Homo sapiens: one gene and its partners. The protein of the gene in region 5 interacts with the protein of the main gene of each other region in a biochemical or structural test. Each region holds a gene or a part of one and is shown on either strand. Other genes may lie near its edges.

What was found.
Region 1: the proteins of FRMPD1 (region 5) and KCNJ4 interact in a test that uses a peptide from one of them, tested with the Homo sapiens proteins (one large-scale study listed by IntAct).
Region 2: the proteins of FRMPD1 (region 5) and KCNV1 interact in a test that uses a peptide from one of them, tested with the Homo sapiens proteins (one large-scale study listed by IntAct).
Region 3: the proteins of FRMPD1 (region 5) and SCN4B interact in a test that uses a peptide from one of them, tested with the Homo sapiens proteins (one large-scale study listed by IntAct).
Region 4: the proteins of FRMPD1 (region 5) and SLC45A4 interact in a test that uses a peptide from one of them, tested with the Homo sapiens proteins (one large-scale study listed by IntAct).
Region 6: the proteins of FRMPD1 (region 5) and ARHGAP21 interact in a test that uses a peptide from one of them, tested with the Homo sapiens proteins (one large-scale study listed by IntAct).
Region 7: the proteins of FRMPD1 (region 5) and SDK2 interact in a test that uses a peptide from one of them, tested with the Homo sapiens proteins (one large-scale study listed by IntAct).

What each region holds. Positions count from the first base shown.
Region 1 is NC_000022.11:38,444,929-38,448,857, reverse strand, and holds part of KCNJ4 (inward rectifier potassium channel 4), read left to right. Parts: intron 1-3,929. UniProt on the Homo sapiens protein: Inward rectifier potassium channels are characterized by a greater tendency to allow potassium to flow into the cell rather than out of it.
Region 2 is NC_000008.11:109,972,647-109,977,372, reverse strand, and holds the start of KCNV1 (potassium voltage-gated channel subfamily V member 1), read left to right. Parts: upstream 1-1,601; 5' UTR 1,602-1,754; intron 1,755-2,180; 5' UTR 2,181-2,984; coding exon 2,985-3,445; intron 3,446-4,585; coding exon 4,586-4,726. UniProt on the Homo sapiens protein: Potassium channel subunit that does not form functional channels by itself. Modulates KCNB1 and KCNB2 channel activity by shifting the threshold for inactivation to more negative values and by slowing the rate of inactivation.
Region 3 is NC_000011.10:118,146,089-118,150,017, forward strand, and holds part of SCN4B (sodium channel regulatory subunit beta-4 isoform 1 precursor), read right to left. Parts: intron 1-3,929. UniProt on the Homo sapiens protein: Regulatory subunit of multiple voltage-gated sodium (Nav) channels directly mediating the depolarization of excitable membranes.
Region 4 is NC_000008.11:141,217,488-141,221,416, reverse strand, and holds part of SLC45A4 (solute carrier family 45 member 4), read left to right. Parts: intron 1-1,587; coding exon 1,588-1,767; intron 1,768-2,387; coding exon 2,388-3,406; intron 3,407-3,929. UniProt on the Homo sapiens protein: Proton-associated sucrose transporter. May be able to transport also glucose and fructose.
Region 5 is NC_000009.12:37,657,183-37,661,111, forward strand, and holds part of FRMPD1 (FERM and PDZ domain-containing protein 1), read left to right. Parts: intron 1-3,929. UniProt on the Homo sapiens protein: Stabilizes membrane-bound GPSM1, and thereby promotes its interaction with GNAI1.
Region 6 is NC_000010.11:24,713,566-24,717,494, reverse strand, and holds part of ARHGAP21 (rho GTPase-activating protein 21), read left to right. Parts: intron 1-3,929. UniProt on the Homo sapiens protein: Functions as a GTPase-activating protein (GAP) for RHOA and CDC42. Downstream partner of ARF1 which may control Golgi apparatus structure and function. Also required for CTNNA1 recruitment to adherens junctions.
Region 7 is NC_000017.11:73,396,174-73,400,102, reverse strand, and holds part of SDK2 (protein sidekick-2 precursor), read left to right. Parts: intron 1-813; coding exon 814-935; intron 936-1,673; coding exon 1,674-1,783; intron 1,784-1,917; coding exon 1,918-2,068; intron 2,069-2,620; coding exon of another isoform or gene 2,621-2,695; exon of another isoform or gene 2,696-3,060; intron 3,061-3,929.

The DNA of each region.
Region 1 (3,929 bases), on a different chromosome or scaffold from region 5:
CCTGGGACTGGGATGGAGGAGAAGCCCCCACCAAGCCTGGCCCAGCAGCTCCTGTCTGCGGCTGCATTGGCCTTCTCTCCATTTCCTCTCCTGGGAGATGGAGAAACCGAGTCCGGAGACCACCAGGGTTTGCCCAGGGTCACTCAGCAATGGTGGCAGAGCCTCTCAACCCGGAGCTGCTCCTGACTCCTCTGTGTCCTGATGGCTCCCAGGGCTGCCGGCCCCTCCTCTCTCACTGACACTCCCCAGAGCTGTGGGGTCTGTGGGAGGCGAGCAGGGTCTGGGTCTCTTTAAGCTCCTTCTCCCCAGAAAATCCCCAGATCGGAGCGAGGGGAAGGGCAGCACTCCCTGGTCACAGCAGTAGGAAGGGTGGCCTGCGTCAGGGGCCTGGGATCGAATCCCAGCTCAGCCCCTCACTGGCTCCGCATGACCTTGACTAGGCCACTGTCCATCTGGGGGCCTCTCTTTGCCCCTCTGTGTATCGGGGGCCACCCATGGGGATGGTGGGGCGTGCTCAGCCTTTTCCTGTTTTGCCTGTCCTGGGAGAAGCTCACACACCAGCGACCCGGGCTGCAGGGATGGGAGGGTTCCTTTTTTTTTTTTTTTTTTTTAAGACGGAGTTTCGCTCTTGTCACCCAGGCTGGAATGCAATGGCACAATCTCAGCTCAGTGCAACCTCTGCCTCCCGGGTTCAAGCGATTCTCCTGCCTCAGCCTTCCAAGTAGCTGGGACTACAGGCATGCGCCACCATGCCCGGCTACTTTTTTCTTTTCTTTTCTTTTCTTTTTTTTTTTTTTTGAGAGTCTCACTGTGTCTCTCAGGCTGGAGTGCAGTGGTGCAATCTCGGCTCACTGCAACCTCCCCCTCCCAGATTCAAGTGATTCTTCCGCCTCAGCCTCCCGAGTAGCTGGGACTACAGGCGTGTGCCACCACGTCTGGCTAATTTTTGTATTTTTAGTAGAGACGAAGTTTCACCATGTTGGTCAGGCTGGTCTTGAACTCCTGACCTTGTGATCCGCCTGCCTCAGCCTCCCAAAGTGCTGGGATTACAGGGGTGAGCCACTGCACCCGGACGGGAGGGTTCTTTAGCTGGGCCACAGGAGAGGGTGCATGTGCTGTGGGGAGCTGACCCCATTTTACTGATGGGGAGATTCAGGCCTAGGGGAGGGGTGTGCCCATCTTCAAGTTGGTGGCAGAGTTGGCCCCTGGGACACCTCAGTGAAGCTTCCCCCAACCCCCTGCAGCTCCTCTCCCAGCCCCCACCCTAGACTCCCCCAGGAGCCTCCCCTCTCCTCATAGGCCTGAGAAGCCCAGGACCCTCTGCCCTGTGAGTGTGAAGGTACCACTCAGCCTGGGAGACAAATGGGATGGGGTCCGCAATTAGGGGCTCCTTGGGGCCATACAGGGGAGGTGGTGGGCACAGGCTGGAGAGGCCCTGGCTGGGGGTGAAATGGAGCAGGCAGAGGGGCTTTGGGCATCCTTCAAACCTCGTGCCCATGGATACCCTTCTGCAGTTATCCTGAGAAATGGGCCTCAAGTCCCTCCTCACTGTTCCTCACGGGGAGCTCCCCATCTCCGGGGAAGCCCACTCGTGTCTGGAAGGTTCTGCTAATTGATCCCTGACTCCCTCTTTCCTTCGCCCTGCCCTCTGGGGCAGAGAAACCCAGCCTGCTCTCAGCAAGACAGGAGGAGTGGCCCACCTCCCCCTCCCCTACCCCAAGGCTCCTCCAGCCTCAGTTGTCCCAGGCGAGGCCCGTGACTGGGAAACAGAAGATCTGGGTTCATGTCCAGCTCCACCCCTTAGCAGCTGCGGAATCTGGGGCAGGTTTTTCACCTCTCTGAGCCTTTACCCCCTGCCCCGTAAGGGTGGGCGTTTGCCTCTGTTTCTTTTTTTTTTTTTTTTGAGATGGAGTCTCGCTCTGTTGCCCAAGCTGGAGAGCAGTGGCGCGATCTCAGCTTACTGCAACCTCCGCCTCCCAGTTCAAGCAATTCTCTGGCCTCAGCCTCCCAAGTAGCTAGGACTACAGGTGCGCACCACCATGCTCGGTTAATTTTTGTATTTTTAGTAGAGATGGGGTTTCACTATGTTGGCCAGGCTGGTCTCGAACTCCTGACCCTCATGTGATCCATCCACCTCAGCCTCCCAAAGTGGTGGGATTATAGGTATGAGCCACCGTGCCTGGCCCTTTGCATCTGTTTCTGAGGGTGACTGGGAAGATCCTGTGAGCCTGTGAGTGAATGAATGTATCATAGCTCGTTGATATGAACTACTTTGTGACCCAACCACTCAAGGGCACTGCTGGGCCTGATTTCCAGACCCCCATCACCAGCCACTGCCTTGGGGTACCACTTCTCTGGACAGCTGAGCCTCCCCCGGCCCTCCCTCACCCAGGCCCCCAGAACTGCTTTGGTGGGCAAGGCTGGCTGAGTGCCAGCCCCGCCATGAGGCTTCAGATCCTGAGCCCACCTGACCTTGGAAAGGGCCTCTCTCTGGCTGGGCTCCAAGGCTGCCCCCAACAGACACCCGGCAGTGGCTGGGCAGCAGAGAGAGAGAACTGGGTGGGGCAGAGAGAGGACCACTTGCCAGAGCTGTCCCGGCTCCCTGAGACAACAGGCTAGAGGACAGAGGAGAATGGCCAGCCAGCCACGGGCGGGGCCCCACTTAGCAGCTACATCAGCAGCCCGGCAGAGCTTACTCCTCACAGTCAAGTGGGCTGCCTGAGAAGTGGGTGAGCGCCCTGTCCTGGGAGATGTGTAAGCAACTGCTGAATGGCATCTGTTATCAGGGCAGGAGGGGGCTCTATTAAAAGACCCGGGGAAAAAATTGGAACCAGACCCCAAAGAGTCCCTGTTATTTGGGCTGCAGAGTGGCGGTCCTGTGAGCTGGGGGGTCTAACAGACTTTTCCCAGTATTCCCCCATAACATCCAACAATTCCCCACATGGTTGTGTGTCACAAAGCCCGGAGTCCAAGCACCGCCCGTCACAGCTTCAAGACACACGCCGGATCCCATTTCACCGCTCCTAACCCCCACTCAGGCCAGTGCTTTAAAATTGCACACAGGTCCTGCCCCGTTAGTGGGTTGGGAAATTGACTTAGTGAGTTGCACTACTTGTTTTCCGAAAATGAAATTAAAAAGAAAATTTCAAAATACTATGCATGTAGTGAGGGTAAATATTATTTTGTGACGCTCTTACTTCAGCTTTAAATATATAGCCGGGTGCAGTGGCTCACGCCTGTAATCCCAGCACGTTGGGAGGCCGAGGCGGGAGGATGGCAAGAACCCAGGAGGTTGCAATTGAGCTGTGATCGCATCACTGCACTCCAGCCTGGGCATTGGAGCAAGACTCTGTCTCTAAAAAATAAATATAAAGTAAGTTAAAATAACAAACAGGATGTTTGCTTTTACTACGGATTTTGGTCAAAAAACTTGAAAGCTACTGTCCTGTGTAGAAATCCAGGAGGCGCCCTGATAGAGGTTCTGATGCTCAGGTTCCGATTTCCCTGGATGTTTGGTTCCTAAAGACATAGGTGCCACAACTTCCAGGATGCTGCTGTCCTGCCCTCAGAAGTAGCCGCCTGTCCCTTGCTCAGTGGACCACCCAGGTCCAGGCACCCATGCTCCTCCAGAGCCACCACCTCTCCCCAGGGCCTAGATCCCAGGCCGGGCCAAATTCCCTGCTTTCCGCTCAGCCCAGGCCCAGCCCTGCTCTGTCCTTGTGCCCTCCTGCTTGCCCTCATCTTCCTAGGACCTTCTCTTTATGCCCTTTCACACACACACACGCACACACACGCATGCACGCACACATGCGTGCACGGAGCTCAGCAAAGCCGGTTTGTGACTTACCTGCTTCCCTTCAGCATACAGTAGGTGCTCAATAAATGTTCACTCAATTATTTACAGACCGCCCTCCAAGGCAAGGCACTGC
Region 2 (4,726 bases), on a different chromosome or scaffold from region 5:
CCTCTGGTTACCTGTCCAAGATCTCTCTCCTCACCTAAAGCTGGCATTCTCCTTTGAATGCTTTCCTCTTTCCTCACCATAATCTGTAAAGCTAGTATAGACTTTCATTGCTAATCATGGTATGAATAAGCCTTAACAGAACTATGGCCTTTTGCTTTTTTTCAATACCTATATAATCTACAATTGAGATGCTGGAGGAGTTTTCTTGCTGTGCAGGGGAAAGCTCTGCTACATTAAAAAATAATAACGATACAGTACCTATACAGAATGAAGAACTGTTGACTGGGATAATTCTAGCATTTCTGTATTTACTGTATGGAAGAGTTCTTTAAGGAGAAAAGTTAACCAAATGGATGGCTGTCAAAAGAACCATGCTTATAAATATTATAGTTTAAAAAAGTTTATTGAAGTCCCCCATTTATTCTCAGAGGATTACTATAAGCTCCACAACAACAGAGATCTTGTCTATTCTTCATTGATACATCGCAAGTACCTTGAATAGTGCCAGTATATAGTGAATGCTCAGTAAACTTTTGTTGAAAGAGTGATGAAAATACCTCATTAAACTCCTGTCCTTCATTAGAAACTTGTAAACAAAGAAAATAAAAACAATCACACTGATTTATCAACAAAAAATAATGTTTCTAGAATTTTGTTTATGAAGGCAGCCTCTGACATGTAGTCCTGGGTTTGATTTGAACTGTGTGGCCCTTTGCAAATCACTTAATTTCCCTGTGCCTCACTTTTCCTTTCTGTAAAATGGATATATGCTACCTCATAGTGTTGTCATTATGATTAAATAAGGTACTGCATGAATAAAGAGCCTACAAATTTCCTGGCATAAAGTAAGCACCCATTAAATGTTGGGTGTTTTCATTAAAGCTTGAAATTTCACTGAGGAAGGCACTGAGACCCTCAAAGTAAATGATAGCTAGACGTCCCACAGCCAGTTGGCAAAGCTAGAACTAAACAGTCACGTTTCTGTCCAATCTATGAAAAAGCTTATTCTACTACATCAGGCTGCCTGCTTATGTCTTTATATATACTACCTAATACGTGTGTGTGTGTATGCTTTCTAATATATACTTATATATGTAAGTGTATCCATAATATATGCTTTCCAATATGTATTCTATATATACATACTAGAAAACAACGAAGATGAGTGTGGTTCACTCTCTCTGGCAAAGACTTGAAAAATGCATGATTCTGAGATGCCTGCTGAAAATGTGAAAACCTTGAACCATGCCAAATGAAGCAGTTAATATAACTGCCCTAACCTCAAGTTTAGCACACTGATCCAGTTGGAAATTTTGCTCTGGAGCATTTACAAAAGCACAGATCCGGGGAAACGGGAATCAAATGCAGTAATTCTGCAAGTGTATTCAGGATGAATGTAATATTGAGTGTCACCGGGCACCTCACTACCCCCCGCCTCCACCCCCGCCGTCTCACCTCCCTCCCTTAGATCCTGCCACTCCCCTCTGCTGGTGCTGGAAGCACTGGGCGAGTGGCTCTCAGAGCTAGAGCGGGCGGGGCGGACACGCTTAGCGTAAGCGCAGGGGCCAGGAGCCCGGAGGGAGGTGGAGGCGGGGCAAGGCAAGGCAGCAGGCGCTGGGTAGAGCTCAGCTGGAACACAGTTTCCCTCCTGGACCGGTCGAGTCAGACCTCACGTGTAGACTAAGAGGATCAAAAGAAGAGTACGTTACCTGCGGCGCCGGTTGTGCGCAGACCAGATGTGCCGGGAGCTGCAGGTGAGTCACTTGCTCTTCCCTCCCACCCCCACCTCCTCACCCCGAGTCCAACAGGTTGGCTGGAGCGCAGCTTCCAGGGGCCCCGTGGGTACACTTCTAGTCTCACCTGGGCGCTGGCCTCGGCTTCTCCCTTTACCGAGGGAGGCCGTCGTTACTATTTAAATTCCTGCCCCAGCCCACGCTTGTTCTATTCCTTGTCTTTTTGCCTTTCCTTCTAAAATGAGAGCTCCGCTGTGCTCAGAACACCTGCTCTCCGGGAAACTTGTAGGGACAGAAATGGTTAAAAGGAAGGGTGCCTCAAAAAAGTGCCTCAACACGAGGTGGACCCTCGACAGGGTGGGAGCTGACAGTGACACTCCTAGTTCTTAGTGACCCACTGGGTCTTCAATAAAAAGTCATCATTAATTATTCTTGTTTCTCAACCAGGAGGTCAGAACCTAAGGGAGACGGCGGAAGAAAATGGAGCGTCAGTGATCATCAGACTAGAATGAGAGTGAATTGGGAGAAAATGGTGCGGCCCCCTCACCCAGAGAACCCTCCCCCACCTGCTCACACCCCCAGCGAACACCCCGGGGGAGGCCTATGAAGCAGCAGTAAAAGAAAAGGGAGGAATATAAATTCTCAAGTTGGAAGGGACCCGGTTACCACTTCCTTTGCTTTCTGAACTTTTTGTTTTGGTCTCCTGCGGGCAGGAGTGAGTCTCGCCATCCCCCTTGCTTGCTTGCTTGCTTGCGTTCAGCTAAGAGTCATCTTCTCTCCTCTTCCTCCTCCTCCGCCCCACATCTCCCTCCTTCCTCCCTTCCCCAACCCCTCCACCCACCAAGTAGCGAGTCATTCAATCTGTACACCTCCTGGGCTGGGAATCGCAATTGCGAAGTTGGGAGGCGGGGTGACAACGTTTGGGAAGGGCCAGGGCGACCGGCAGTGTGCACAGGGACTGTGTCGGGCTTGGACCTCACCTGATCCTCTCTCTTAGCGCGACCCTTCCTCTGCTCCCTGTCTCCTCTTTCTGCCACTTGTGCGCTGCTTCCGCGCACTCCCGGCTCCCTAGCGGCAGGAGGAGGAAGGCGCACAGCGGGTGGAGAGGGTGCGCCAAGGAGAGGTAACCCCTTCGGGAGCCCGGGGAATCCCGGCCGCCACCAGGGGCCGTGCCACCGCCCTCGCGGGACCAAAGCTTCCGGCGTGTCCCCAACTTTGTGGCGCCCTCAGGCCGCGGCGACTGGGTTAGAGATGCCTTCCAGCGGCAGAGCGCTGCTGGACTCGCCGCTGGACAGCGGCTCCCTGACCTCCCTGGACTCTAGTGTCTTCTGCAGCGAGGGTGAAGGGGAGCCCTTGGCGCTCGGGGACTGCTTCACGGTCAACGTGGGCGGCAGCCGCTTCGTGCTCTCGCAGCAGGCGCTGTCCTGCTTCCCGCACACGCGCCTTGGCAAGCTGGCCGTGGTGGTGGCTTCCTACCGCCGCCCCGGGGCCCTGGCCGCCGTGCCCAGCCCTCTGGAGCTTTGCGACGATGCCAACCCCGTGGACAACGAGTACTTCTTCGACCGCAGCTCGCAGGCGTTCCGATATGTCCTGCACTACTACCGCACCGGCCGCCTGCATGTCATGGAGCAGCTGTGCGCGCTCTCCTTCCTGCAGGAGATCCAGTACTGGGGCATCGATGAGCTCAGCATCGATTCCTGCTGCAGGGACAGGTACCCCGGAGGCACGCGGCGGCTGGGCGGGGAGGCGGGCGCGGCAGAGAAAGAGAGGAAGGCACAGGTAGATTTGAGGCTTTACACAAGCTTCGCTGGAGCCAGGCCTAGCAATAAGGTGTGGCCACTTCTGGGCTGACAGGTGGGGTGGGGGTGGGGGACTGGAAAGCATCAACGCCAACTTTTGAATAGAACTTTTTGAATCTCTTTGTTCCCTTTTTTGAGTATGCTAATTTAACGTATAAGGCAAGGGACTTCAGGCCCACAATAAATATTTGGTGACTGAATAAATGAATCAGAAACGCCATGCTCCAAAAATGCATGCATAGGGATAAAAGATTTGGCACGCAGCATTATCATTTATCAAACCTAGAACACTGACTTTGAAAAACTTGAATGGAGAATTGTTTTAAATATAGAAGATAAAAGGTTGGTCCCTTGATTGAATGATTGTGGAACTCTGAGGTTACCTTGCTATTACTACCATTTCTTCATGAATACATTTCCTTTACACACACACAAAAAAGTTCCACCTGCCAAACATCTGTTCTTACCAGAAAATGGGTAATAAAATGTATTAATCCAAAGTAGCTTTACTATGTATACACTTCTACTAAGAAAGTGTCATTTTAAAAATTATAATCCAGGCCGGTCGTGGTGGCTCACGCCTGTAATCCCAGCACTTTGGGAGGCCGAGGCGGGTGGATCACTTGAGGCCAAGAGTTCGAGACCCCCCCTGGACAACATGGTGAAACCCTGTCTCTACTAAAAATACAAAAATTACCCGGGGGTGCTGGTGGTGCGTACCTGTAATCCCAGCTACTCAGGAGGCTGGGGCAGAAGAATCGCTTGAACCTGGGAAGCGGAGGCTACAGTAAGCCGAGATCACTCCGCTGCACTCCAGCCTGGGCGACAGAGCAAGACTCCGTCTCAAAAAAAAAAAAAAAAGGAAAAATAATCATAATTCTAAGGGAGAAATTCTGAATACTGTGGGTAAGACACAACCTAAGTAAAATATGAATAGACATTTTTCTGCATTTTGTTGAATGAAAAAGTCTGACCTCCCTGCCATGTTTAATTATCTTATACTTCTGTATTTTAATAAAGTTAGACTAATCACCAAATTGTTTTCTCTAAAAGATACTTCAGAAGGAAAGAGCTGAGTGAAACTTTAGACTTCAAGAAGGACACAGAAGACCAGGAAAGTCAACATGAGAGTGAACAGGACTTCTCCCAAGGACCTTGTCCCACTGTTCGCCAGAAGCTCTGGAATATCCTGGA
Region 3 (3,929 bases), on a different chromosome or scaffold from region 5:
GCTGGACCCGCGGTCCCCTCCTGAGCCCTGCAGCCCGGCCTTCTCGCCACACTCCGCCCCCTCGTCCCCGAGCGCCCCCAGGCTTCTTTCTCACGCTTCGAACCTCCGCCCCAGCACTCCGATGCGGCCCCCTCCGCTGGGACTAGGCCTCTCCACTCACGGCCTCCAAACTCCCGCTCCGGAGTCCTTGTAAGGGGGCCTGGTTCCCCGCCACCCCGCCCCACACACACACCCACCCCCAGTCCTGCAGATGCCCCAAGGAAACCCCACTCGCCTCAAGGTCGGTGGAGGCGGGGGCGGGGAGGGTGTCTGGAAGTGGATGCCTGCCTCACCTCCTCCCTAGAGGACACTGGCACCTTCCAACCCCACTCTCAGGAAGGCCCTCTGTTGTCTAACTTAATTCCCTGTTCTGCATCATAAACCTCTTGTTTTGCCCCCACCGGATGATAATGCGTCTGAGCAATGCTTTTCAAATGACAGAAAAGGATCTCCAAGGACAGCAGGCAGCCCTGCTTGCTCAGCTTCTTCCTGTGCCCTTAGCTTCTGATGACAAAGTGAAGTGCTTATATCCCCCAGCCCTAAAATCACACCCCGTGGTCCAGTAACCCCATCGTGATTCGGCCATTGTCGCTAACAATAGTACTAGCTGATATTAACTGAGCATCTACTATGTGCCAGGCACATTTCATCCTCACGGCCTGTCCTATGAGTCACGTACTATTATAGGTCCACATTGTAGGTGAGACAACTGAGCCTAGAGAGGTTATGTAACTTGCCTAAGAGACCCAGATCTACCCACCAGGGCTCCAATTAGTGCTGGGAAGTTATTTCAATTAGCCTTTATTTTTGGCCAGCTCCTAGGATTTGTGGCCAACCAGGATTTGTTCTAGAGCCATGGTTTTCAAACTTGAGAGCGCATCAGAATCCCCTGGAGAACAGTTACGGCTGGCTCCGCCCAGCCCCTGGAGTTCTGATTCAGGTCTGGAGTGGAGCCTGAGCTTTTACATTTCGAGAAAGTTCCCAGGGAATGCTGTGCGCAGGGACCACACTTTGAGAACCACGGTGCGAGAGGATTTGTGCATACTAACTACGACTTTTATTAGAATGCTCAAAGGCAGGTATAATGTTCCCATTTTATATATGATGAAACTGAGGCTCAGAGAGTTGACTTGCCCAGGGCCACAGAGTAAATGGTGAATTTGAGACTGAGCAGTTACTATAGGATAGGAGAGGTATTTTATATACACTGTCTCATTTAACCCTCATCATAATCCTATAAGTTACTATTTTTATTCCCAATAAACAAATGAGGAAACAGGCTTAAAAAGATTACCTTGCTCATGGCCACACACCCAGTGAGTGGAATAAGCAGCGTTCAGATATTAGCCCCTTTCCACCACTCTGTGACCAACCACACTCTCCAAGAAAAACACTGCTATCAGGGCTTAGCACTCCATAGAACTCCTGCCTTTCTGTTTACCTCTGCCCTCCTCCGCCCCATCTCCCCCAGAGGTCTAGGGACAGAAGCCAGACACAAGATCCCACTCTCCAGTCTGCAGCCAGCACTAGAACCTTTTGGTGGGAGATACCAACTCTGCTTCCCACCCTCCACAGCCCCCACAAACAGGAAGTGAATGCAGAGCAGTGGACAGGGAAGCTGTCAGACAAGGCAGCTTCCTGATAGCTAATGGCCTCCCTCAGGGCACCAAGGAGTGTGGCAGCTCCTCCTCATCAGCATACCGGTCCAGGAATCAGGGTCCTGGAGGAGATGGGGGAACTCAAATCCGTGCCCAAATCTCCCCACCTCAACCCTAGCCAGAAAGAGATATTCAAGAGCACAAAAGATGCGTGCGAAAAGGAAATCTTATTGATTGCTTTAAATAGAAGCAAAAACGAGCAAAAGATGGGTCCAGAAGAGAGGGGAACACTGTATCTTTAAGGTCTGGCTCATGACACAGTACACGTTTCTGCCTGGTTTGTGTGCACCTATGTGGATGACTTAAGTCCAATACACTCAGGACTCTGCAAGTGAAGCATTGCCATTTCCTCAGTAGCTGGGAGGGGAAAATGAAAACCGGCAGAAATGGTTTCACAGAGTCCAGAGCCCTGCCCGAGTGAAAGCATCAGAGAGGGTGGGCAAGCCTGGCTTCTTCAGTGCACAGCCCTCCCAGTCGGGAGTCATGCAGTCCTGCCAGTTATGTCTGGGAGGGTCATGCACAAGAAAGCCGAGGGGCCTGCCTCCCATTGAACTCAGTGTCTCCTATGAGGCTGCTCTGGGGGAGAGGGGGGAACCAGGGGCAGGTGTTGGTCCACAAAGGCCGCCGGAGGGCTGCTTCAGGATGACCAAGTCCAGAGAGGACTGGTGAGCATGCGCAAGGCAGGCCCCACTCTGCCAGCTGACCTTGAGAAAGTCAGAGGTGCCACATCCGGTGTGCATATCCCCAAGCCAGGGCAGGGATGCCTCTTTCCTACTTCTCAAGCTTGGTGTGAAGCCAGAACAGGAGATTATAAAACACAAGAGGGGCCGCCGTGAGTGGGCACCCTGCAGGTAGAGGAGGGTGGTATTTGAAAGGGGAGCAGGGGACAAGGGTGTCCCTCATCACAGGTAACCAGGGCACCCCTAGCTTCCCTGAATAACCAGTGTCAGCCAAGAATGTCTCCAGGCCATTCCCACATTGATCTGTATTTTCACCCTCTACCACTTCTTGGCTTATTTCCATGTGGCCATTTCCCCGGAGTAAAGAAAGCCTTGCTTTGCTGTTTTCTAAAGTTAATTCTAGAATGTTAAAGTGTACGTGTGTGTGTGTGTGAGAGTGGGGGGCCTCTTTCCGGCATTGTGGAATTGAGGAACAACTCTTCCCAGTCCTGATCCTGTGGAATTCCATCCTGAACCCCAAAATCTTGCTTTTCCTCACTAAAAAGCCACTCTCAGAGCAGCCATTTTCTTTGCCTTCTCTGAAGTCCTGGCCCCCTGCCATCCTCATCTGGGGTTTTGTCTGAGGACTGACTCAGGATCACTTTTGTTAAAGTGGAAAAGTATTCAGCACATGCAAATCATATTATTAAATATTCACACCAGCAGGAATCTTATGGCAGCTACCATATATCCCAAGGCAAATGTGGAGGCAGAAAACTTTCCACCACCTTTTCCCACATCCAGGGATCACTCACAGCCACCCCAGGATGCGGGGAGGAAAGAGGGGCAGGCTGGTACCCACTCTAAATATAGCTCTGAGGGCTTGCTGGCATGGCAAGTGGACACACGGCTGACTTTAATAGGGAGGCTGATACACTCTGGCCCAGGGAGAGTTAGAAAGGCTCAAAGTTAGAGCTGGGGGGCAGAAAGTGGGCTGAGGCCAGCAGGACAGGACCCCTCCTGGGGTGCAGGCCCTGGGGGCTTTGGGAGGCAGGGATGGGCCAGGTAAGGCCCCTGGGCCCAGAGACAAAGGAAAGATTTCAGCTTTCTCTCCCTAGGCAACCTACCTGCTTCCTGCCCATCCCCAGGAGCTTTGCTGGTATGAAAGCATGCCCCTGAGACAGCATGGGATGCTCAGTGAAACCAGCTTTGCAAACAAGTCCCAGCAGCATGCCTGTCCCTCCTCTTACAGGCCAGAGAGCAGGTTGTGTTGGCACGGCCCACCCCTGGCTTATGCAGAGATCCCTACACCTCCTTGAGGACTGGCAGCAGGGCAAGGTGGTCTGCTGTGCCCAGTCTCCCTCTCATGCTGATCCCACCAGAAGGGGGCCAGTCATAAGAGCTTTGGAACTCCAGCCTTCTCTCTCAGGTGCCCCCACAGGCTTGCACCTCCAGCAGGTTCAGAAGGAGAACTAAGCATGTTTTCCAGATTCAAACCCAGGATTCCAGATTCAAACTCCCTCCACTTCTCCCCTTTCCTCTCTTCTCCACAGTCTCCTTGCTTCTTCTTTCC
Region 4 (3,929 bases), on a different chromosome or scaffold from region 5:
AGCGCCGAAGCTGGCCCCATGTGGGAAAGCCGGAGGAACCTGTTCACAGGGAAACGCTTCCTGTTGTGATGGTTTGTTTTTAATGCGTATCTGACACCACGTCCTGTTTCCAGCATTCTTTCAGAAATTATCTTGTCTTTTTTTGTTCTCCTTTTCTTCGACTTGGTGTTAAAATGTCCAGAACCTGGTTTGATGTTTGTGTTTTGCCTTCTTGGTTGTTGTTTTCTTTTGAATTAAAGCAACTCTGTGTGGGAAAATAGTTTTTGCCTTGAGGGCACCCATCAAAACTGTTAAAACATTTTTCTGGCAAGAACTTTTTGAGACAGAGGAGCTTAATCTGTGTTCTGAACTAGAGGAACTTGCCCCGGGCCTGCACTGATGCGGAGGGAGCTGAGGGAGTTAAGCGGCAGGAGGAGAGGCCCCGGGACGCTTCTCAGAGCCTGAGTGGGCACTGGCCATGGGGTGGGCTTCGTCGCCAACAGGCGATGCCTCTGACTGCGTGTGGGGGTGCGGCTGCCCTGGCGCCTGCTGGGCGCGGAGCTGCCGGCCCCCTGCCTGTCCGTGTCCCTCGAGAGCAGCCCTCCCCTCCCTGCTGGAACAACGTGGCTTCCCAGGGCTGTGTCCTTGGGGGTGGTCCTGCCCAAATGTGACCCAGATGGCAGCCAGCTTGGGAGCCCCAGCCCCTCTGCCTCGGAGCCGTCGCCTGCCCGTGGTCTGAGGAGGCCAGCAAGGACCACCTGGGCAGAAAGCCCTTCTCCCGCGCCTCCCACGGACAGGTGTGTCTGTGTTCAGGCCTGGGTCCCGGGCTCTGGCCCGCAATTCCTCTAATCTTGTCAGGAGGGCACTGCTTGTCTCCCTGGTGGGAAGTGGAGACCCAAGGTGAGCCTCAGCCATCAACATTGATCTGGATTCAGGGGCAGACTCCCCTGAGGCAGGAGGGACATGGGTGGGACTGCTTTTGAGTGCCGGCAGCCCACTGCAGGAGGACTCGTAGGTGAGGTGCGGCCACTGGCATCTTTCTCTCTAGAGCCACGTCTCCTGAACCCAGGCTGCCCCGAGAACTTGTGTGCAAAGCCCCTAAAGTTTGGGGTGTCGTTTCCTTTCAGACCTAGAGCAGGCCCAGCGAGACCCCCTGCGCCTGCCTCGCGAAGCCTCATCAGTGTCCCCTGCGGGTTGTCTGTGGCATGAGCGCCTTTCCCTGTGGGCGTCTGCACTACCATGTGCGGCCTTCTTAGCGACAGTGAATTCATGCTTCCAGCACAGCAGCCGTCCTCTGATGGCCGGGGTAGAAAGGTCTATTCTTCCCCTTTCTGTTTGAAAAACATCAAGGGCGCGTAAACCCTTGGAGGTCTGATAAACAGCTAACCGAACGGGGAGAAAAACCCTGGAACCCTCAGAAGTGCGTGGAACAAAGCCCAACTCCTTTCCGCTGCCTCTGTGCCTAAGAGCCTCTCTCTTGTGCTGGAAGGCTGGCATGGTTTTGTGGCCGTGCCCCCTCCGCATGCCCCTTCCATGTGGCTGTTTGCTATCAGGCCCACCCTGGCCAGTGCTTGAGGACCTGACCGCCCTCCCGTGTGCTCTGCGCAGGTCTGGCCCTCGGCGATGTCCCCAACCGGCAGCCCATTGGCATCGTGCTCACGGTGCTGGGAGTGGTGGTCCTGGACTTCAGCGCCGATGCCACCGAGGGGCCCATCCGTGCCTATCTGCTGGACGTGGTGGACAGCGAGGAGCAGGACATGGCCCTCAACATCCACGCCTTCTCTGCCGGTAACGCTGCCGCACCAAGGCTGGGTGGCCGGGTTCCAACGTGCCCGGGCCTGGTGTGGGGAGGGGACAGGAGCCTGTGTTGTCAGCGCTGCCTCATCAGGCTGCATGGAGGGTTGAGGCAGTGGGCAGGGTCTTAGGGCTGGAAGGTAACCAGGGGCAGCCCCTCCTGACCACCAAGCACAGTGGGGCCAAGGCACTGAGGAGCTTCAAGGGGCAGGAGGCCAGGCCTGCAGAGGGTGACATGCATGCTGGCACAGTGAACCTCCCAGCCCTGCACTGACCTTGCCCTCCAGCAGGGCAGTACTCCCATCCAGGGTGAACGTGGCCAGCTCCGTATGCAGAGGGAATGCCCTTCAGTGCAGAGAGGCGCACACTTGCATCCGTCCTGGGGTAGTCTGCCCTTCATTGATCAAGGGGCAGTTCTGTCGGGTCAGAATTCTCAGACCCAGCAGCAGCTGCAGTTTCTTGTTTTGTTTTCCTACTGCTTTCTCCTTCTCCAGCCCCTGACTCCCATCATGAGGGCAGCCCCGGCCCCCTGTTAGAGGGAGAGGCCCTCCCAGAGCTTCCCCCCCTGTGGCCTGGTGCCACCGGCTCACCGGCTGCTGCTTCCTCCCACGCAGGCCTCGGCGGAGCCATCGGCTACGTGCTGGGTGGGCTGGACTGGACCCAGACCTTCCTGGGCAGCTGGTTCCGGACCCAGAACCAGGTGCTCTTCTTCTTTGCCGCCATCATCTTCACGGTGTCCGTGGCCCTGCACCTGTTCAGCATCGACGAGGAGCAGTACAGCCCGCAGCAGGAGCGCAGCGCTGAGGAGCCCGGCGCCCTGGATGGGGGCGAGCCGCACGGCGTCCCTGCCTTCCCAGACGAGGTACAGTCGGAGCACGAGCTGGCCCTGGACTACCCGGACGTGGACATCATGCGCAGCAAAAGCGACTCGGCATTGCACGTGCCGGACACCGCGCTGGACCTGGAGCCCGAGCTGCTGTTCCTGCACGACATCGAGCCCTCCATCTTCCACGACGCCTCCTACCCCGCCACCCCCCGCAGCACCAGCCAGGAGCTCGCCAAGACCAAGCTGCCCCGCCTGGCCACCTTCCTCAAGGAAGCCGCCAAGGAGGACGAGACCTTGCTGGATAATCACTTGAATGAAGCTAAAGTCCCAAACGGAAGTGGCTCCCCCACAAAAGACGCCCTCGGCGGCTACACCAGGGTGGACACGAAGCCCTCGGCCACGTCGAGCTCCATGCGGCGGCGGCGGCACGCGTTCCGCAGGCAGGCCTCCAGCACCTTCTCCTACTACGGCAAGCTTGGGTCCCACTGCTACCGCTACCGGCGCGCCAACGCCGTGGTGCTGATCAAGCCGTCGCGCAGCATGAGCGACCTGTACGACATGCAGAAGCGGCAGCGGCAGCACCGGCACCGGAACCAGAGCGGGGCCACCACCTCCAGCGGGGACACCGAGAGTGAGGAGGGGGAGGGCGAGACCACGGTGCGCCTGCTGTGGCTCTCCATGCTGAAGATGCCCAGGGAGCTGATGCGGCTGTGCCTCTGCCACCTCCTCACCTGGTTCTCTGTCATCGCCGAGGCCGTGTTCTACACCGACTTCATGGGCCAGGTCATCTTCGAAGGCGACCCCAAGGTGAGTGCTCGGCCACCGGAGCGGGGCCGCTCTCTCTGCCCACCTGCGGCTCACGGAGAAGCTCACGGGCTGGGCCGGGGGGCCTCTTCCTCGTGCCCACGCGTGTCAGGGAGGCCACACAGTGCCTCCCGTGCAGGTGAGGGACCCGCGGCAGGCAGCTGGCCCGCGCGCGCCTCTGGGAACTTGGTGGGGGCCGTCCTGGGGTCATGGGGTGGGTTGCAGTGAGGCCCGCGGTGAGCAGTCGTGAATGCTGATACTGGTGTGAACGGGGTGTCTGTTACTGTGTGTCAGACTACCCCAAAACGGCAGCTAAGATAATGGCCTGCTGTTGACCATGCCAGGCTCATTGGTGGCCCTTCTGGCCCCTGTGGTAACGGCTGGGTCACACCTGTGGCTGCGTTTGCCAGGAGAACCAAGGTGCCCTCAGCACACGCTCGGGCCTCCTGTCTCCATACGGTCCCTCCCTTTCTGGTCCAGTCTGAGCTGCTCCATGCAGTGGCTCCGAGAGGGCCACGGCAGAGGC
Region 5 (3,929 bases):
TGTTCTTTGAGTATCTAGAATATAGGGTGTAGGCTACAGCTTGTATTAAAACCAACGATAACAATCCCACCTCCCCTGCCAGTTGAAACCCCTGTCTGATGCTGACTTGTAACTATTCACATGTGAAGCTTCTGAGTTACTGCTTTGTTGTTTTCTTTGCTCCAATGTAGAATTCAGAAGGATGCAAAAGGAAAAACAATTATTAAAGACGAGGATGGCATTTATTCGTTCTTATAAAAATAATTTATTTAGTAGCTGCAGTCTCTGTTCTCTCTGGCTTTCCCTGGAAAAAGACACCACTCCAGACTGTCCAGGGCTCCCCTGGTACCTGTGAATGTGCTGTTAGTTCCTGGTCTGGTTAGAAGATGATGTCTCTGTGGAGATACATACTTGGCCTCTTTCTTTCTCCCTGGGGTGAGGGACATTTTATGTATAGGAGATGGAAGAATAGACGGTCTCTTTCTCAAGCTCATTCCTGGTTATTTTCAGTACTTAGCTCTTTGCAAAAACTGCGTAATAAGTGTCTTAGTGAGAGTGTGCCTTGTTTATGTGCTGAAAACCTAGATTCACACATATGTTTCCAGATATTTTAGCTACCAGCATAGACCCTCAAACAAGACTGCCAGCTCCGGAGATGATCAAGTACAGCCTTTGTGTGGTGCAGGAATTCCCCTAGCATACCCAGCCTCCCTCTGCTTGGACCTACCAACCCCCACCACCTTCCTATTCCATCCTCAGTTGGCTCTGGTTATTACAAAGTTCTTCATTATTCCAAGCCAAAAATCTTCCTCTCGGCAATGGTTGCCCCATTGGCCCGATCCTGTCCTTTGAAGCCCCACACACAAAAAATCCATTTCTTCTTCCCTATGACAGCTAGTTAGGCCACTTGGACCTTCAAAGACAGGGATCAGGCCCCCACATCTTCACTTCTTTAGGCAGAATGCCCACTTTATCTGGCCCCCTGAAAAGCTAAGAATGGGACACCGCTGTGCAGGTGGGGGTCTGATCAGCCCAGACAGGAGCAAGCCCACTGCAGCCTCACTTCGGAATCTATATTTGCGTTAGCACAGCCTGAGGCCAGTTAGGTCCCGGTGGGTCCCCCTTCTGAGCTGTGCACTGGGCCACTACGGAACTGCATGCACTTTGGCGTCAGAGAGACCCGAGTGTCCTGGCCCAGTGGTTGACGTGGGGTCGGGTGAGTGAGCCCCCTCTCTGGGACTCAGATCCCTCATCTGTCTGACTACTTCTTAGGTGCTGTATTTTTTCCTGTAAATGCTGTAACAAATCACCTCAATCTTGGCTTAAAACAGCAGAACTGTGTCCTTGAACAGTTCTGGAGGCCAGAAGTACAAAATCGAGATGTTGGTAGTGCTGCTGTCCCACTGGAGTCTCTAAGGGGAATCCTTCCTTTGTCACTTCCAGCTTCTGGTGCCCACTGGCATTTCTTGACTTGTGGCTGCATCACTCCAGTCTCTGCCTCCCTGGTCACGTTGCCTCCTCCTGTCTGTTTCAAATCTTTGTTTCACTCTTATAAGGACACTTGTCCTGAGATTTAGGGTCCATCTGGATAATCCAAGGATAAGCACGTCATCTAAAGATCATTAATTTAATTATAGGTGTAAAAATCCTTTTTCCAAATAAGATCACATTTACAGGTTCCTGGGATTGGGACTTGGAATTATTTATTTATTTATTTATTTTTGAGACTGGGTTTGGCTCTGTCACCCAGGCTGGAGTGCAGTGGCATGATCAAGCTCACTGCAGTGCTGATCTCCTGGGCTCAAGTGATCCTCCCACCTCAGCCTTCTAAATTGCTGGGACTATAGGCGCACACCAACTGGCTAATTTTTAAATTTTATTTTTAGTAGAGATGAGGCCTTGCTATGTTGCTCAGACTGATCTCAAACTCCTGAGCTTAAGCAGTCCTCCTGTCCCAGCCTCCCAAAGTGCTGGGATGACGGGTGTGAGCTACTACATCCAGCCAAGACTTGGATATCTTTTTAGGGTGGCCGCCATTCAGCCATTGGCTCTCTACTTTCTCTACTTTTGCAACTCCCTTTTGTTTCTATTGTATTTGAACCCAGCTCTCCAGGGTCACTGGCCTCAGATCCTCAGGCCACATGTCTTCTGTCTCCTCCTTCCTTCAGCATCCTGGCTGCTGCTCTGAAGGGTGCCGGGGCTGTTCCTATCACTCCTGTTGTACAGATGTGGGTGGGGCCCTCAGGGATTAGGCTGCCTAGGAGAAAGCTCAGGTCTTTCTGGTGCATACCCTCATTTCCACCAGCATGCTATGGCGAGTCCAGTGGAGGTTTTGTCAGTGGGAAGGAGAAGCTGTGGCTATTAAAATATTCATTGCCGGTTCTCAGACGTAGGGAAGATCCCACAGTGAATGTGCTCTGGACAAAGAAGGGACACATAGTGGAAGACTTATGTCTTCACATTTTCCCACTAATTTAGACTGAGATTGGCTCACTGAATTTGAGGGAAATTATATTCTCAGTGCCCAAATACTCTGTAAAAAATCAGGAAATGCTCCTTGACAACCCTGTAAGGGCATAGTAGTATCATCTTCTTGCCCTACAACTAGCCTGTTTCAGAAGTTCCATGGTCCTTTAAGTGTGATCTCCAGTCTGCTGCTGGCTTCTGGGCTCTCCAAATGCAACTCCCACTAAAATGTGCTTTTCTCCACAAAGAGAGTGCGCTGCTTTGTTTGCAGTTGACTTTTCAAGCACTAAAAAAAAAAAAAAAAAAACAAAACTGAGGGGCAAGCAGAAGAGCTGCGTCTGGTGAAGCTAGTAGTGGAGCTGAGAGAAAGCAGGGGGAGGGTAGTGGCCTGGGAAGTTCTGGACACTGAGCAGCTCCAGACTCTCCACTCATTGCTGCCCCCAGGATTCCTGTCCGACGGCATCCTCCTAGATGGCTGCTGCACTCATTTCAATGTGCTTTGCTAAGAAAGGCCTGTGTGGGGATAGGGGCTGGGGAGGAGAGGCGGGGAGGGAGGAGAGAGATGAATCAGACAGTCCCTGCCCCACCTGCGGCTGGAAGTAAGTCAGTGCTGGGCAGGGTGCTGTGCTTTGCAGAGACCCTTGGGAGCCTAGCAAGGGCTGGCCATGCCTTGCAGGGAGATCTAGGAGGGCTTCTGGGAGGGACTGGCATTTGAACCGAGCCCTAGTGGGTGACTAGGAGATAAAGAAGAGAAAGATGGATAGAACAGTGTATCCAAAGTTGACCTCAGGTGGCCCCCTTCCTGGTCATCATCCGATGGAGCTGCACTGGAAGAAGCTCAGGTCTTACAGGGACCTTAAGGACCATCTAGTAAGGAAGATATTCAGACTGCACTGCTTAGAGACCTCCGCTTCTCATTTCTCTTAAAGAACAGTGATTTTAAAGTAGGTTTAAACAATGGGTTTAAAGAACAGTGATTTTCCATTTTGACAAGGCTTGTTTGGTATAGCCACTTCAAAATATCCCCACATCAAAATATGATGCTTTATCTGGGATATCTTTTCCAGACTTTGGGAGCCTTCCCTCCTGCACTTTCATTTCTGCAAGGCAATACTCCCCAGACAGTGTGGTCATGGGGTGTTGCTGTGTAACCTTCCCCACTTGACTGTGAGCTTCCTGGGCAGGGACCGAGCCTTGCTGCTCATTCAGTACGGAGCCCAGAAGGAGGCCTGGGGGGTACAGTGTTGACCGATGAAATGAATGAATGCATGGCTATGACTACTTCCTTAGCTGCATCTGGCTCCCAGCTGCCTTCATTGGTCTCTACAGTCATCAGTAGTATCCTGGCTAAGTCAAGAGCATATGTGGGCCTCTGTGTTTCTCCATCTTATATTCTCTCCTGGAGTTGGTTTGCTATATCAGCCAAGTTAGTAGAGACTTGGAGGGGTGGTGCCCCCTCTCTGCACTTTCAGAGGATAGGGAGG
Region 6 (3,929 bases), on a different chromosome or scaffold from region 5:
CTGACCCGCAAGACTCTTTCAGTTGCCCCTAGTGTATTCTCTCAAAACACCCTGCACTTTCAGGAATACCAGTTACAAGTTTATCTATATCCCCCTTGGATTGCAGTCCCTATAAGAGCAGGGACCATGTTTGTTTCCACAGGGACTGACACATAGTAAGTGTCAGGTGATATTTTTTGAATGAATAAATGAATATGCAGGAAAGGCTTTACATTTTATTCAGTGTTCATTTAGATTCCCGGACATTATACTCTCTTGATTATCTTCCTTCCTCGTTGTCACCTCCTTCTGTCTCTTTGAGGTTTCCTCGACATCCTGATTTGCTAAACCTTTCTACACCTCAAAGCTCAGTTAATCCTCATTTCTTCTCCCAATACTGTTTCATGGTTTTAAATATCAAGTATATGCAGATAATTGACACACACACACTCACTTATATTTCTTTATGTGTACATGTGTATATCTCTATTGCTGACCTGCTCCTCTGTCTCGCAGAATCAGATTCCTATATCCAACTGACCTGACTGCCTAGAATCTCCATTTGAATAGTAAATAGGCATATCTAAAACCACAATCCTGACTCTACCTCCATTCCCCTGGCCCACCTTCCCAAGTATGCTCCTTCCAGTCTTCCTCATCTCAAGCAATAGCAATCCCATCCTTCCAGGCCAGGCATCTTGGAGTGATCTTTGATGTCTCTCTTTTTTCTCATATATGACATGTGGATCTGGTTGACTGATTTCTCCACTTCAGTCCTTGCCAGCCTAAAGCCTGTTCTCCACACAGCAATCAGGACAGACAATTTATAAATCAAGTTGTGTCATTCCTTTGCTCAAATTCCTCAAATGGCTTCTCATTTCTCTGAAGATTGAAGGCCAAAGTTCTTGCAGTGACCTGCAAAGCCCTGTATAATTGGTCCTTCCCCCTCCCTGAGCGCACCTCCTGTGCCTCTTCCCGCCTCACTCTGTGCTAGCCATTCTGGTCTCTTGCTTTTCTGCATGTACACAAACGTGGGAGTCCCCAGAGCCTTCCCACTCACTGAACCCTCCCCTTAGAACACTTCCCCCAGTCTCTGCACAGCTTGCTTCCTTGGCTCCTTCGGGCTTTTGCTTAGAGGTCACCTTCCGAGTGAAGCTTTGCCAACCACTCCCTTTGTTGAATGCCCCTCCCCTGCTCCCTGTGCCATGCTCTGCCTTCCTTCCTTGCTTTATCTCCCTATCACTTAGTCTCCACCCGGCATGCTTATGCATTTGATTTTGTTTGTTTATTTGAGACAGGTAATATATCTAGAACGCAGGTGTTGAGAGTGCAGTTTGTCTGTTTTGTTCACATTGTGTTTCTTGTGCCTAGAAGAGTGCCTAGCACATAATAGGTTGTCAATAAATATGTTTTTGGAATGAATAAAGACTTAGCAAAACTCCAAAATGTTACTGAGTTTGCATTTGGACATGTAGTATGTGAATTCTTATTTATTTTATTTCTTTTTGAGACAGAGCCTTGCATTGTCACGCAGGCTTGAGTGCAGTGGTGCAATCTGCGCTCACAGCAACCTCCGCCTCCCAGGCTCAAGTGATTCTCCTGCCTCAGCCTCCTGAGTAGCTGGGATTACAGGCGTGTGCCAGCATGCCTGGTTAATTTTTGTATGTTTAGTAGAGATGGGGTTTTGCCATGTTGCCCAGGCTGGTCTCGAACTCCTGATCTCAAAGTGATCCACCCACCTCATCCTCCCAAAGTGCTGGAATTACAGGTGTGAGCCACTGCGCCCAGCTGAATACTTATTTTAGTTTATATAAAATATGTACAGTATGAAATATGTTCTTCCTTAGACCTCCTGCCCACCTTAAATTCTATTTCATTTCCGTTAGAACTGCTGTTAAAATTTTTGGTGCCTTTTTTCTTTGCACCTTTTTTACCTTTGGGAAGCTGGTAACCAAGTAACAGTAACCAAGACAATGTGTAGTACAAATGTATGAAACAATTTCCACTAAGAGATGAGATCATGATAATTAACAGACAAGTGAAAGGGCAATCAGACTGGTCGATAAGAGAAGCTATAAAAAGATAATCTGTATGGATGATGTTTTATTTCTTAAAACGAATGGCTAGTATATGGATGTTCCTTATTATGTATTTTTATTTTTTCATGTCATAAATATTTCATAACCAGTTAAAAAAAGATCACAAACATTGACCGTGATGAAATGTTAACAGTTGTTTATTCTGAATGATGAGAATATCAGGATTATATTATTTTTACATTTTCTCTTTTTTATTACCAAAATGACAATAAAAGAACACTATGTATAGACTTTAAAAATAGGTAATATGTATTCAGTCTTGTGAAAATTTGGTTTGTGGCAAACCTACACTGCTTAAAACAATACTAAAAAGCATACACACTGCTCAAAGCAACACTTAAAAAACAATTTTTTCTTTTTCTTTTCTTTTCTTTTCTTTTTTTTTTTGAGATGGACTCTCACTCTGTCGCCCAGGCTGGAGTGCAGTGGCGTGATCTTGGCTCACTGAAAGCTCTGCCTCGCGGGCTCATGCCTTTCTCCTGCCTCAGCCTCCCGAGTAGCTGGGACTACAGGCGCCCGCCACCATGCCTGGCTAATTTTTTGTATTTTTAGTAGAGACGGGGTTTCACCGTGTTAGGATGGTCTCGATCTCCTGACCTTGTGATCTGCCTACTGTGGCCTCCCAAAGTGCTAGGATTACAGGCGTGAACCACCGTGCCCGGCCAAAAAACAATTTTTAAAAAGCAAGTTTCTTCATTGGAGGCATAGGATTCATTCTAGACTAGTTACAGTATGGTATAACTCTATTATTTAATTTTAATTTTGTGTTTCTTCATACACCTGAATTTAAGTGTCAGAATACTGTTCCATGCCAAAAGTTTTATGCTGCAAGTTAGGGTTAAAGCTAAAACCTGTTAGAATTGAGAATGATGGCAGTAGCAGCAGCAGGGATCATTAAGTGGCATTTCGGCAGAAGCCTGGATTTTAATGTATTGAGTGGGGCCTATCACTAGATAAGAGCCATCAGCAAAGTGAGTACCCAGATCTAAAGAATTTCTCCGTAAATTGTTAGTGTTCCTTCCCATTCATTTCTTCCAGGTTAAGCGTTTTATGAAGTTCATTGTGCCTTGATGTTCTTCATTTCTTTAGTTACTACCAGGTCAAGTAATCTAGCACAAAGGTAATATTCAGTTTCTTTTGTTCTTTGCTTTGTGAAGGGTCCTGTCTTCTTATTATAGTTAACAATATGCTGATTTAAGTATGGGCAATGCTAGCGTTGATAAGATGCACAGATGCTGTTATTCAATGCAGCTATTTTCTGTTACAGAAAGACCATATGGTAGGCACTTGTTTTTCTGTCTAGTTGATGTGATTAGATTACTAAAACGAAAGGTTATTGGACTTAAAGATTGTCCTACTATTTTATCTAATTTTAATTGACTGTAAGTAATTAAATGTGTTAAAATATTGTAAGCCTTCCATATCTTCCCTGGTTTGAAGTAGAAAGATATCTAAATGCAAAAAACTCAATTTTGGATTGCTTTCACTAAAATAGTTTTATGGTTTAAGTTGCCATGTTCTTATAAAATTGGGTATTGTGCAAATTATTTCACAATCTAATCTGGATGATGGCATTTTGTGCTTCTCAAATAATCCAAAAGACAAATGGATATATTGTACTATAGGTTTGAGAAACTTGATGTGGGCTGGACGTGGTGGCTAATGCCTGTCATCCCAGTACTTTGGGAGGTAGAGTCGGGAGGATTGCTTGAGCCCAGGAGTTTGAGACCAGCCTGGACCAAATAGGGAGACCCCCATCACTTAAAAAAAAAAAAAAAGAAAAAAAGAAACTTGATGTGATGGAAATGTTTTATAAGTCCTCTTCTAGTTATCTATTTAATGTGCAAGAAT
Region 7 (3,929 bases), on a different chromosome or scaffold from region 5:
TCCACCTGCTGCGTAGATGGCTGGGCTGCCTGAGTCTCAGCCAAAGCCCAGTGATAATTACAGCCATGCTGGCAAATAGGTATGTAGTGTTCACGGGGCATGGTGCTGGGAGCTTTGCTCACGTTGACTCATTTAATCCTCACAACAACCCTGAGGGAGGTGTTGCTATTATCCTCTTCATTACCAAGGAGGACATGGAGGCACAGAGAGTTGGATAACTTGTGCAAAGACACACAGCCTGTAAGTAGTGGAGTTAGATTTAAACTCATTCTGACTCCAGAATCTGTGTTCTTTCTGTTGTTCCTGAGCTCCAAGAGCCCCAGGATTCCTGGCCAGAAAATAAGCTTCCCCCTGTCCCCACCCATCCTCTCACCTTCCTGAGCTGTAATTAGGCGTAGGAGGTGTGCAGGGGTCTGGGCGGATGGAAGGGAGGATCGGTCCCGTTTGGTTTCTTTCTCAGCACAGCTTGGTTTTAATGCAGCTTTTAGCTGCCTTATGATTACCTCACTCACATCCAGAACTGCCAGGAAGAAGGCGGCATCCCGGCCCCTGTTTCCTGGCCCTGAGAGCCTCCTCTCAGCCCTAGGAGATCCCCTTTGACCCCCAACTCTGTCTCAGCCTCCTGGCATGAACATGGTTCTCCGTAAGACACAGGAACAAAGACTGTGGGTGGAGTGGGGCCGTGGCTGTGCTTCTCCTCAGACATTTCCAGGAAAAGCGTGACACACAGCCCCCTCCATGCCCAACAGTCCCGTTCAACATGGGGGGCCATTCTCACCGGATCTCCTTCCCCACCCTGTTCTCCTTTTCCAGAACTCCCAGGGCCCCCCACCAACCTGGGCATTTCCAACATCGGCCCCCGCTCTGTGACCTTGCAGTTCAGGCCAGGCTACGATGGGAAAACCTCCATCTCCCGCTGGCTGGTGGAAGCCCAGGTAGGGCAGGCCTGGGGCCTGACCAGCAGCCCCCGCCAGGGCACCCCGTGCCCTTGAGTGCAAAATCTTATGTGTATTTCGGCCTGTGTGAATTTTCATGTGCAGCTCTCAATGGCCCATTATACTCCAAATGCTCACACTTGCCAATGTTGTCTCCAACTCCCCCTGCCCCTCACCTGTGTACATGGAAAAACACACACACACTACAGTCCCCTCCTGGGTCGGGGGGTGCCTAGAAAAATACCCAGTTGCTGGAATATAAAAATATCCGCCTTGGCTGTACCCTGGAATCATCAGGGGAGCGTTCAGAAGCGCCAACACCTGTGCCCCTACCCCAGAAACTCTGATTCTGATTTAGCTGATTTGAGGGGCAGCCTGGGTCTCTGGAAGTACCCGGGGTGTTCAAGAGAATCACCTGGGCTGCTTGTTAAAAGCACAGATTCCTGGGCAGCACTCGAGGGATTCTGTAAGTAGTGGAGTTAGATTTAAACTCATTCTGACTCCAGAATCCAGGAATATATTGATCACAAGCATCCTGAGAGATTCTAAGGCAGGAGGGTTGAGTCACACTTGCAGTCATGTTTAGGGGCCTGGAAAGATGGTAGCCCCATATGGTGCCCTCCAGATGAGCCCTGGGTTCTGAACCAACTTCTTCCCTGGCAGGGCTTGTACTGGGGCTCGGAGCACCCCGTGTGGGCCCTGTAGGCTGGACAGGCCTAAGATCCTGCCCTTTTCCAGGTAGGCGTGGTTGGGGAGGGAGAGGAGTGGTTGCTGATCCACCAGCTCTCCAATGAGCCCGATGCCCGCTCCATGGAGGTGCCCGACCTCAACCCCTTCACCTGCTACAGGTAATGAGACTGGCCCGGGGAGAAGGCAGCAGCCTCAGGGCTGGGGGTGGGTGGGGGCTATGGCCCAGACCAGGACAGGGTTGAGAGTTGGGTGAGCTGCCCTTACCATCTTGCTCATCTCTCCCCAACCCCAGCTTCCGCATGCGCCAGGTGAACATCGTGGGCACCAGCCCCCCCAGTCAGCCTTCTAGAAAGATCCAGACCCTGCAGGCACCCCCTGACATGGCCCCAGCCAATGTGTCTCTGCGCACAGCCAGTGAGACCAGCCTGTGGCTGCGCTGGATGGTAAGGCTCCCTCGAGGGCAGGGGTGGGACCTCTCCATGAGCTTCTGGTCATTGCCTCCTAGAAGGTGCACATCAGAATTCCTACAGCTCCTTTCTCCTCTCTTTCTGTTTTCTGATGAGATGCCTGATAATCAACATCTTAGCCCAACGAACAAATGCCCCCCCGCCCGCCGATGAGAGGAAGGAGCTCAAAAATACTGTTTACTGAGCATCGCCAAGTGGCAAGCATTTTAAATTTTCATCCCATTTGATTCTCCCAATAATCTTACAAAGGATACATGATCATCCCAATTTACAGCTAAGAAAACTGAGGCTCAGAGAGGTTAAGAACTTGCCCACAGCCACACAGCTCCCAAGCGGCGGGTCTGGGGTTCAAGTGCCACTGTGGCATTCAGAGAGTGTCCCCAGATCCGGGCTGTGTGTTGAGGGTCCTGACCGTGGGCCATCCTGCACGAGGTAGTGACAGTAACACACCGAGGCTTCCTCTCCTACCAGGCGCTGTTCTGACAACAAGCCTGTGACAGCAGAGTGATCCTGGTCCCCCTTTTGCAGATGAGGAAACCGGGGCAGAAGAGAGGTCAGATCACTCGCCCAAGTTCTCCCGTATCCTCCCACGTGCTTTCATGAACAGCAGGGCTGAGGTCCCAACCCGGGGAATCTTTACCCGCAAGTCCACAGCCCTAACCATCGGGCACACTGCCGTCTCATCCTCTGGAGAACAGGCCACTTCTCCCCACCAGGCCCTCTGGAACATCGTTTCCCAGCACGTGTCCCACAGAGCAGCAATCCCAGGAGGCGTGTGGAGCAAACAAGAATTCTTAGACAAATAAATGTGGGAACAGCACCACATACCACAGCTCCATAGAGAATCCAGGAACACTAGCATAGCAGGAGCCCTCTTGACCCTGCTTCCCCAGGCCCATCTGACCACACAAACCCTTTGTTTCCACGTAAGATCTCACTCATTGTGCAAAACACAACTTGCAAACACACCACACTGTGAAGTCATTATTGCCGTTCCTGTGCGCGGACAGCTTGATGCTAGCGGCCATGAAAGCGCTTGGCGCCGTCAGTCCTCGATAAATATGAGTTATTGATTGCAGTTCCCTTCCCAGAGTGGCTGGTGCCTGAGCAGAGCTGCAGAGCTGTCTCGGCCCACCTCAGTGCCCCGTGCACAGTGTGACTATACCCACCTCCTGCCTCTTTGCTCCCAGGCATCCCCACCCCAGGCTGGCTCCCTGCTTCCTTCCTGAATCTCACTTTAAGGTTTGCAGCTACTAAAAGGTTAGAGCCTGATGCGGAGGGCAGGGACTGCATGGGGGAATAGAAAGGCAGCTGCCATGTGGCACAGGGCCCTAGACACTTCTCAGGCCCACGCTTAATGGTGCGTGGTCCATTACCTTTCCTCAGCAGGTAAAGGAACTTGCACTTAAGCCCCATCTCCGGCTCTCAGGACCATCGATTGCTATCTTAATGGTCTTTGGTCGGCTTCACTAAGTGTCTGCAGGAGGGAGGAAGCGTGTAGTGAGCAGGGGAGGTTGGGGCCGAAGGTGAGGAGTGGGGTAAAGTGGGTCAGCCTAGGGTGAGCCTGTGGACCAAGGGCCCTCCAGAGCCCCTGGGGAAGCAGAACTGGGGGAGGTGAGGGCTGGAGATGCCCCCACCCCAGCTCTGTGCCCTTCAGAGTAGTGGAGGCCAGGCCCTGGGCTCCCCTCCCTGTGTGCACACCTCCACTCTCACCAGCACTGCCCATGGTCATCCACACAACCTTAAGCTGGTGACCACAGCCCCATCAGCCTAGTCCTAAGGCCCCAAAGAAATCTGACTTTTCTTTTCTGTGAGACTCAAACAAGAAGGAGGAGGC